Linked DNA regions of Homo sapiens: region 1 is linked to region 2. Evidence: fine-mapped expression QTL. Tissue or cell type: whole blood. Region 2 holds a variant in brackets; the other region holds the start of a gene. All regions are shown on one strand. Distances are between the middles of the regions. Region 1 holds the start of PLEKHO1 (pleckstrin homology domain containing O1). Region 2 overlaps LINC02988 (long intergenic non-protein coding RNA 2988).

Region 1 (4,386 bases), 31 kb before region 2:
AAGATGGGGCAAATGATGAATTACTTTTTTCCCATAAATCAGAATCTATTTAAATGATAACTCTAAACCACTCCTGTGTGTTTGTCCAGCAAGCCCTCAAAAAATCGTGCAGGCTATTTGCTCACCAGTACATTTGGACATTTTGCATCCTCACATATGAAGACACCCTGGATTTGCTCATTATTTTTTCATCGCTCTTTAAACAGGGGGTTAGAAAATAGAGACGGTGGAAAGGGGACAAGATGGTTTGGGGAACGTGGTGTGTGCACACTCATGCCCATGGGAGGGGGTTACAAAATCTGAAGAGGAGACTGCAGTCAGGAAGCCTGGATTCTAATCCATTTAGCCAGTAACTTGATGTATAAACTTGGGCAAGTCAGTTTATCTGGCATGCCCTGTTTCCTCATTTTCCAAATGGAAATATTAATACTCTATATACCTTACAAGGTGGCATTAAAAGTGTAAAGAAATGACATATAAGAGCATTTTGAAAGGATAAAGTTCTGTGTCAGTCTAAAATCGTGGAATTAATTGGTATGGTGAATGGAAAGAAGTTGAGAGGAATATCATTGGATTAGGAGGAAAGGTGGAACTGGAAAAGAGAGGGAGCCCCTCCTTCATTTGACAGACACCAGAAAAAGTCAAAAGAGCCTCCACTATTCAAACCACAAATCTAGCCAACACTTTTATCTTGAGACATCTCTGGAAAAATGATTTTTCCTTTTCCCTGCTCCTCAGTGCCAGGGATTTTTATTCATTTTGTGGTTACTGCATGCTTGCCATATGCCAGGCAATGTGTTTATTAGCTTATTATGATTTCAAAATTAGCCCTGGAAGACAACACATATCTTCAAAGGACTCTCAGAGGTCATCTCATATCTTCCCCTAGCTTTCCTTGTTGATAAAAATGGCAGTTCATCCCTCACCACTTAATACGTGGAGGGACGCGGGCCTAAAGAAATTCAGTGACTTGACCAAAGCCCAGAGTGGTGATGAAACCAGTACCCAAGCGCGGGGTTTCTCACTCCCCTTTTCCATCACACGTATATATATTAAAAAGACATGAAGTTACTAAGATGTGTCCTGGAGGCTCTGAGGCAGATCTGCTGTAGGAGGGATCAGCAGAGGCTTCTCTAGTCAGGGCATTCTCTGGGCGTTCAGCCCTTCCCTCCACTGGGCTCCAGCGCTGTAGAGAGGGTGGGGTTTTTACCTATCAGTATAGCGGGAAAAGATACCCAGGTGGCAGGAAGTTTAAGCCTCACCTGGAACTTATATTGAAAGCCACTTGGTAGAAAGGATAATGGTTTGGAGACAGAGTTCTATTCCTGCCAGCATTGACACTGTGTCTGAAAAGCCAGCATCGACACTGTGTCTGCAAATCCCTCAGCTATTCTGAGTCTCCGTTTTCTCCCTGTGAGATGGAGATCATAAAATCCGCCTCATCCTTAGGATTATTCTCCTGAAGCTACAATAAGGCCTGAGGCATTGTACGCTGGAAGAAACGTGTATTAATAGCAACTTCTGTCCCACCCCATCCCCCAACACGTCGATCCCCTCCGGAGCATAAAACTTTCCCCCAGCATCTGACCTGCCCAGGCCACCCTAGCACCTAGGAGCGTGAATTCCTGATGCGGGTTGTGGGTGGCGCGCCCTCCCGGTTCCCGCTCTCGTTTTTGTTTTTGGTCGGGTAAGGCGATGCTGTAGAGGCTGGCGATCTCCAGTCTTCACGAATCCGCACGTCTCTCCATTATCCACCGCGCCCGCCCACTGGGCCCCGGGGCGGCCGGCGGCCGGGTCTCTCGGGCTCCGCGTGTCGCCCGAGCCGCCGCCGGAGCGAGGGTCCCTGCCCCCTGGGGAGCGGTCTCCAGCCGCTTCGAAGCCGCCTTCTTCCCCCTCCGTGAGTCAGAAACAAAGGCGGGGGGGCGGGGGGAGCGCCCGAGCTGCGGCTCCGCGATTCGCCCTTTATTCTGAACTCGCAACGTCAGCGGCCCGCGGATGGAGCTGCGGGGTGCGGACTGGGCCGCCCACAGCGCACCGGGCCGGGGGAGCGGCCGCGCTGGGCCGGGCGGGCGGGTGGCGGGGGTGCGCTCGGGGACCCGGGCCGCGTGGGCGCCGGGATGGAGGGCGCCAAGGGGCGGGGAGCGGGCGTGCGTGTGTGTGCGAGTGCGAATGCGAGGGAGGCCGGCCTTGAGTGAAACCGGAGCTACAAAGAAGGGGAGAGTCCGGGAGCGGGAGGGCGCGAGGGAGGAGCGGCGGCGCCGGGGCAGCTCCGACGCCCTCCCGCGGGGAAGGAGCCCCCGCGGTGCCGCCGAGGCCCCGACGCGGGGCCGCCCCTCGGCTCGCCGCCCCGCGCCCGCGCCCGCTGGGAATGATGAAGAAGAACAATTCCGCCAAGCGGGTGAGTGCGCTTGCCCGCCCTGCGGCCGCCGCCGCCTCCGCGCTCTGACGACCCCCGCTCCGTCGGCGCCGCGGCGGCCTGGGAGACCCACGGCCCGGCCGCGCCCCCGCCCCGGCGGCCCGGTCCCCTCGGCCTCGGCCCCGCCAGGCGCCCGCGGGGGCTTTTGTTTGTTTACTCGCCTCGGGGGGCTTCAACTTGGCTGAGTTTCCCCACGACCCGCACCTCCCCCGCCCCCGGGCGCCGGGCGAGCGTTTGCCTCGCGCTCCGCCGTGGCGAGGAGACAATGGGAGAGAAAACCAGAGAAACGCCGTTAGTCCCCGCGCGGCGAGGACGGGGCGGCGGGGGCGCAGGGCCTGGAGGGAACCTGGGAGCCTCTCCGCGCCCGGCCGGCGCCCCTGCCACTTGCAGCCCCGGTTGTTTATTCGGGAGCGGGGGAGGGGAGCGGGGGGAGTTCCTCGGAGTGAAAACCTTTCCGAAGTGGGAGCGAACCTGGGGCGGCCCCCCGCCCCCCGGCCGCAGCCTTCGGAGGAGACTGGGCCGCCGAGGCGGTCGTGAGAGACGGACGGAGAGGAAGCGCCGGCTGGAATCTCCTAACCGCCCGCTTCTCATCTTGTCCTGGGGCAGGGACCTCAGGATGGAAACCAGCAGCCTGCACCGCCCGAGAAGGTCGGCTGGGTCCGGAAATTCTGCGGGAAAGGGATTTTCAGGGAGATTTGGAAAAACCGCTATGTGGTGCTGAAAGGGGACCAGCTCTACATCTCTGAGAAGGAGGTGGGTGCCTCTTGCCTCTAACTCTCCGTTTTCTCATAGCCCCCACTTTGTCACTCCCCAAGGGCTCGCCTAGCTTACTCCACCCCCGTTTTGTTCCAAAGGCAAGTTCAGTGGTCTCCTCTCTACCCCCATCTCATCTGCAGAGAAAGGCCACCCTTTAATGAGAAGACCAGAGTGAGAATTAGAAGTTGAGTTGGCCGCTTACTCAGTGTTTTTTTGTTTGCAAATACCTTTCTAACAACGATAAGCCCCTCCCAAGATGCCCCAGAAGTTCTAAGTGTCCCTTGCTGCCTCCCACCCTAACCTGGCCTCCTGCATATAGGATTTCTTTTCTATTTCTGCTGAAACAGTTTAGCCTATTCGCCACCCCTTCCTGTCCCCCCACCTTAACCCAGCCAGCCTCCCCTTTCCTGTCTGTGGCAGGAGCGTGCACAGGTCCTGTCCGTGGCGCATCCGCCCTGAATCACAGAAAACACGCACCCCGCCGTCAGGCCCCTGTGACCTCGGGTGTGTGAGTGGCAGTTATTTTCGTTGAAGCCAGTGTCCCTAACCAGTATGCTCTCTGTTCCCCACCCCCACCCCATTTAAAAAAGGCAAGGAACCCATTTTCTACCCACTTCCTGCCCACCCCTCCATTTGTATCAGAAGGGAGAGAAATGGAGTTAAGAACCCCTGTATGTCTTTGGATAGCTTTGGCTGTGTAGTTAACCATGAAAACCACAGTCTACACTGTGTCAAGACCTGAGCTATGATAATTGAATCCAGACCCATCTCCCTTTTTTCCCTAAGTCTTGGGATCAATAACGTGTACTAATGTGGAGAAATCAGAATTGCCCCTACAGTGGTTAGAAGTCATTCCATTCCCTGCCTCTGTGACTGTCCAAAGGCAGTCAGTATAGCCTGGAAGACTGTCCTGTGTACCGGTTAGAGTGGCCCTTCCTCCCGCCCTCACGGGAGGTATTCTGTGTTCCCTCACCCAGGGCTAACTGGGAAGTCCTCCCTGAGTTCTAACCTCTTCTGCTTTCTGCAGTAGACATCCTTATTCAGTAGATTATATTTAGGTAAATAAAACCTTTTATGGTATTGAAACATACACACACACACCCTGAGACAAAGTACTCATCTAAAAGAACATCTACTGAGGCATCTAGGGAAGAACTAAGCTGTGCCACAGCCAAAGAGATCCCTCTTAAGGGTATTGAAACCTAGCTGTTTAC
Region 2 (4,386 bases):
AAAAAAAAAAAAAAAAAAAAGGAGACTAGTTTAAATAAATAATGAGAGCACACATTCAAACAATGGACTATTAAAAGAACAAAGTAGACAGGACATGGTGGCTCACACCTGTAATCCCAGTGCTCTGGGAGGCCAATGCAGGAGGATCACTTGAGGCCAGGGTTTGAGACCAGCCTGGGCAACATAGGGAGAGCCCATCTCTATAAAAAATTTAAAAATTAGATGGGCATGGTGGCACACTCCTGTAGTTATAGCTACTTGGAGGCAGGAGCAGGAGGAAGTCTGGGGTTACAGTGAGCTATGATTGCACCACTGCAATCCAGCCTGAGCAATAGACCAAGGCCCTGTCTCTTTAGAAACAAACCAAAAATAGATATAGCAAGACTGCCAAAATATAATGTTAAGTGAATTAGTAAAGGGAAGAGCAAGGTGTATAGTATGTTCCAATTTTTATAAAAAATAAATATTAAACATAGGCTTACAGTGGCACAAAAAGCTCTAGAATACACAAGAACTGTTAAGAATGGCTGACTCTGGTTAAGGAGACACTTTTCATTGTATTCCTTTAGTGCTGTTTGAATTTTACCATGGCATATATTACTAATTCAATTCAAACAAAACAAAAACAACTTTAACTAAACATGTTTTTCTACCAAAAGCTTTACTTGTCCACCCTACTTCCTAAGTATCTCCCAAATCTGATTACCACCCCCTTCCCACTGCCTCTGCCCCAGCCCAACTACAGGAGTGGACTGTGCTTTGCTCCTGAATTCCATAATCTCAAGGGGCATGTTTCCTTTAAAACATAATTGTTTAAAAAAAAAAAACACCTGGTTATCCAGACCATTTGGTTAAATTGAAAACTATCAAAAGGCATATTACCAGTCACACCTGGCTGTATCCTGCATTACAGAGCTGTTTGAAGGTCAATTTTGAGTTGTTTGCCCTGAGTGCCAACATTGCTACTCATGGTTTTGCCTCTACAGTTTCAGGCCATCAACCCCTCTCTCTCCAACGACTGCAACAGTCTTCTAATTAGTGTCACTAACTCTACTGTTTCTTATGCCCACACTGCAATTAGAGTGATCTAAAATTTTAAATCTGGCTTGGCGCAGTGGCTCACGCCTGTAATCCCAACACTTTAGGAAGCCGAGGCGGGCATATCACCTGAGGTCAGGAGTTTGAGACCAGCCTGGCCAACATGATGAAACCCTGTCTCTATTAAAAATACGGAAAAAAAAAGAAAAAGAAAAAATTAGCCAGGCATGGTGGTAGGCACCTGTAATCCCAGCTACTCGGGAGGCTGAAGCAGGAGAATTGCTTGAACCTGGGAGGCAGAGGTTGCAGTGAACCCAGATCATGCCATAGCACTCCAGCCTGGGCAACAAGAGCAAGACTCCATATCAAAAAAAAAAAAATTAAAATTTTAAATCTGATATTTATAGTCCCCACTGCCCTTGAGTTAGAGTCCACCTTCTTTAACACGGTTTACAGGGCCTCTGTGATCCTAGTCGCTTCTTTCTTTGGCCTTGTCCTTCCTCTCCATTCCCCTTATAGACACCTCAGGGCTGCCCCATGCTCTAAACTCCAGCCACACTGCACATTGGTGAACTTTATGCGCTGAATCAGCATTGCTGTCTCTGGTCTCTAACACTCATACCTGCTGTTTGCTCTTTAGGGATCCCCCCTACTCCACAGCTTGACGGCAGAGCAGTGACCAGAATATATGCTCAGGAAGGCCAAAGAGATGAAGCCGCAGCTGCCTCTTTTTTTTTTTTGAGACAGTCTCATTCTGTTGCCCGGGCTGGAGTGCAGTGGTGCGATCTCGGCTCACTGTAACCTCCACCTCCCAGGTTCAAGCAATTCTCGTACCTCAGCCTCCCAGGTAGCTGGAACTATACAGGTGTACCATCACACCCGGCTAATTATTTTTTGTCTTTTTTTGTAGAGATGGGGTTTCGCCATGTTGGTCAGGCTGGTCTCGAACTCCTGGCCTCAGGTGATCCACGCACCTCCGCCTCCCAAAGTCCTGGGATTAGAGGCGTGAGCCACCGTGCCCAGCCAGGCTTGCTTCTCTGAGCCATACCCTTCTGTTGGAACAAGCATCCTTTCTATTAAAAGCAATAAATCTCCTCTTATTTAAGTGGCAGATGGTTTAGATTGTTACTTTTGCTTTCAGCGATCCTCTAGAAAAAGAAGGAACTTTAAGGTTGAGAACTAACTTCTAGCAGCTATGCAGAAGTTCTGAGAGGTGACTC[G/A]TGTTTTTTACATCAAGACCTCCACAAAGGCCCCTTCTGTCATTGAGTCAAAGTTCTAGCGACCTAGGTTCATCCTCAAATGTGTAATGAAAACCTGTAAATCACTTGGACTCCACTTCCCCTCCCACCCTGGGTCCTCCACCCCACCTTGCTTTGGTTTTGCTTGGGGAGAAAGTGGTCTCTACACAATATGTCTCTCTCCCTATCAGTCTGCAGGATGCTCAGCAGGGGCACTCCCTGAACACGCCTGCTCCCACAGCATGTGCAAAGGCTTCACACTTGGATTGAGGGTTATACATTTCTTCATGGACATCCCCAAACAACACAGAACAGAGACAAGGTTTCTGGTCCTTTTGGAATGTCCACACCATTCCCATTCTTCAAAATCTGTCACACTTCCAGATAGTTCCAGTGAACAATGAACTCTCCCCCTATGCAGTAACAGTTGATTATTCAATTTAACACTGAATTATATATTCTCTGGAACTGTTCTCTAACAACTATGAGGCGTTTTCAACGGTAGTTGAATGGAAAAATACCAAACTGGGAGTAAAAAGATCTGGCTTCCAGGCCAGGCGCGGTGGCTCATGCATGTAATCCCAGTACTTTGGGAGGCTGAGGCGGGCGGATCACCTGAGCTCAAGAGTTCGAGACCAGCCTGGACAACATGGTGAAACCCTGTCTCTACTAAAAATAGAAAAATTAGTCAAGCGTCATGGTGGGCGCCTGTAATCCCAGCTGCTCGGGAGACTGAGGCATGAGAATCGCCTGCACCTGGGAGGCGGAGGTTGCAGTGAGCCGAGATCGGGCCATTGCACTCCAGCCTGAGCGACAGAGCAAGACTCCGTCTCAAAAAAAAAAAAAAAAGATCTGGCCTCTCAAGAGGCCGCCACTAACTCTCTGTGTAACCTTGAGCAAGCCAATGTTCTGGGCCTTGGTGCTTCCTGCAGGGTAAGAGGAGGACTGCCGATCTCTAAGGATCTTCCGTGGTCTATGGGTTTATGACTCGAAACTCCTCAAAGTGCAGAAACACAAGCCACATCCCTTCTCAAGGCCAGACACATACTAGGAGCTCTATTAATACCTGAATAAAAACCACGGATGAAGAGCTTGCCTGGCCCTGGCATTTCTATACCAAACCAACACACCATGGATCATTGTATCTTCCCTGGGACAGACCCTCAGAGCCTACAAGTGACTCTACAACTTCACTGATACAGATCTATTATTCCTTAGCTTAGACTTCCATCTCTCCAGATCAACCTTCAGGAAAACTAGGAAACTATCAATAATGATTTCAATTGTCGGCTTCAAATTCACCTTATTTCTTCTACCCCAGCATGCCTTTTTTGTGGCAGCACTTAGATTCTCATTCAGAAAACAAACGCATTCATGCCGTACCAGTGATTTGTTGGGGAAACTGCCTCGGCCCCACCACCCAGATCCCCCACGTTCCTACCAAGTAAGCCAAGTGACCATGTGAAGAACTGACTGACACCCAGAGGAAACTAATAAACAAAAACAAATAAAAGCAAATACCTTTTCAGGAATCTCACTTGGAAAACCAAGTATAATGGCAAAAACAACCAAAAAAAAAAACCCGAATGTTTTCAGCGTTGGGGATGTTGGGGGTGTAGACATCTCGAGAGCTGGTTTCCGAAGGCACCGCACCCCAGACAATGTGCTACAAGAGCCTCCCGGCTGCTGTGTCAATGAAGCCTTTCAGGCCCTCCACACTGCTTCACTTGTTCCCTAAAGTAGTGCTTTCTGGAAGCTAAACTCTCAGCTGGCGAGAACAGTGAACTCTGTGCCATTTGTCTATCAACTCCTTTAAAAAGAAAAACCTCCTGTACGGCTCTCTTGTTTTGCATTTTCTATTCTGCACTCCAGTACGCATAACGACACACAGAAGAGGCAAGGGCCTCTTTTAAAACCGTGAAGAAAGAATAAATTTGAAAGCACCCAGAAGCCTCTGCTTTCAGCTATTAGAGAAAAGTTTGCATCCCATAGAAACCAGTACTAATTAAAAAAAAAAAAACTCAGTCCTCAACCCTGGGAATCAACAATAAGGGACTCTTCAGGGTGTGGAGTAACAAAAAAATTTAAAAACAAAAAATAAATGTGCACA

What was found.
Region 1: it holds the start of PLEKHO1, and the variant in region 2 is fine-mapped to the expression of PLEKHO1 in whole blood (TOPMed, PIP above 0.99).

Annotation. Positions count from the first base shown.
Region 1 is chr1:150,147,890-150,152,275 of GRCh38, forward strand. PLEKHO1 (pleckstrin homology domain containing O1) reads left to right here and starts at 2,027. Exons shown (of 6, transcript NM_016274.6): 1 at 2,027-2,398; 2 at 3,023-3,169. The coding sequence starts at 2,369. RefSeq lists silencers at 1,655-2,114, 2,255-2,334 and an enhancer at 1,967-2,467.
Region 2 is chr1:150,178,445-150,182,830 of GRCh38, forward strand. LINC02988 (long intergenic non-protein coding RNA 2988) reads left to right here. Exons shown (of 4, transcript NR_135098.1): 4 at 2,468-2,784. Among named protein-coding and RNA genes, the nearest start is that of LINC02988, 20 kb to the left of the region's middle. The variant G/A (reference allele first, on the strand shown) is at 2,259.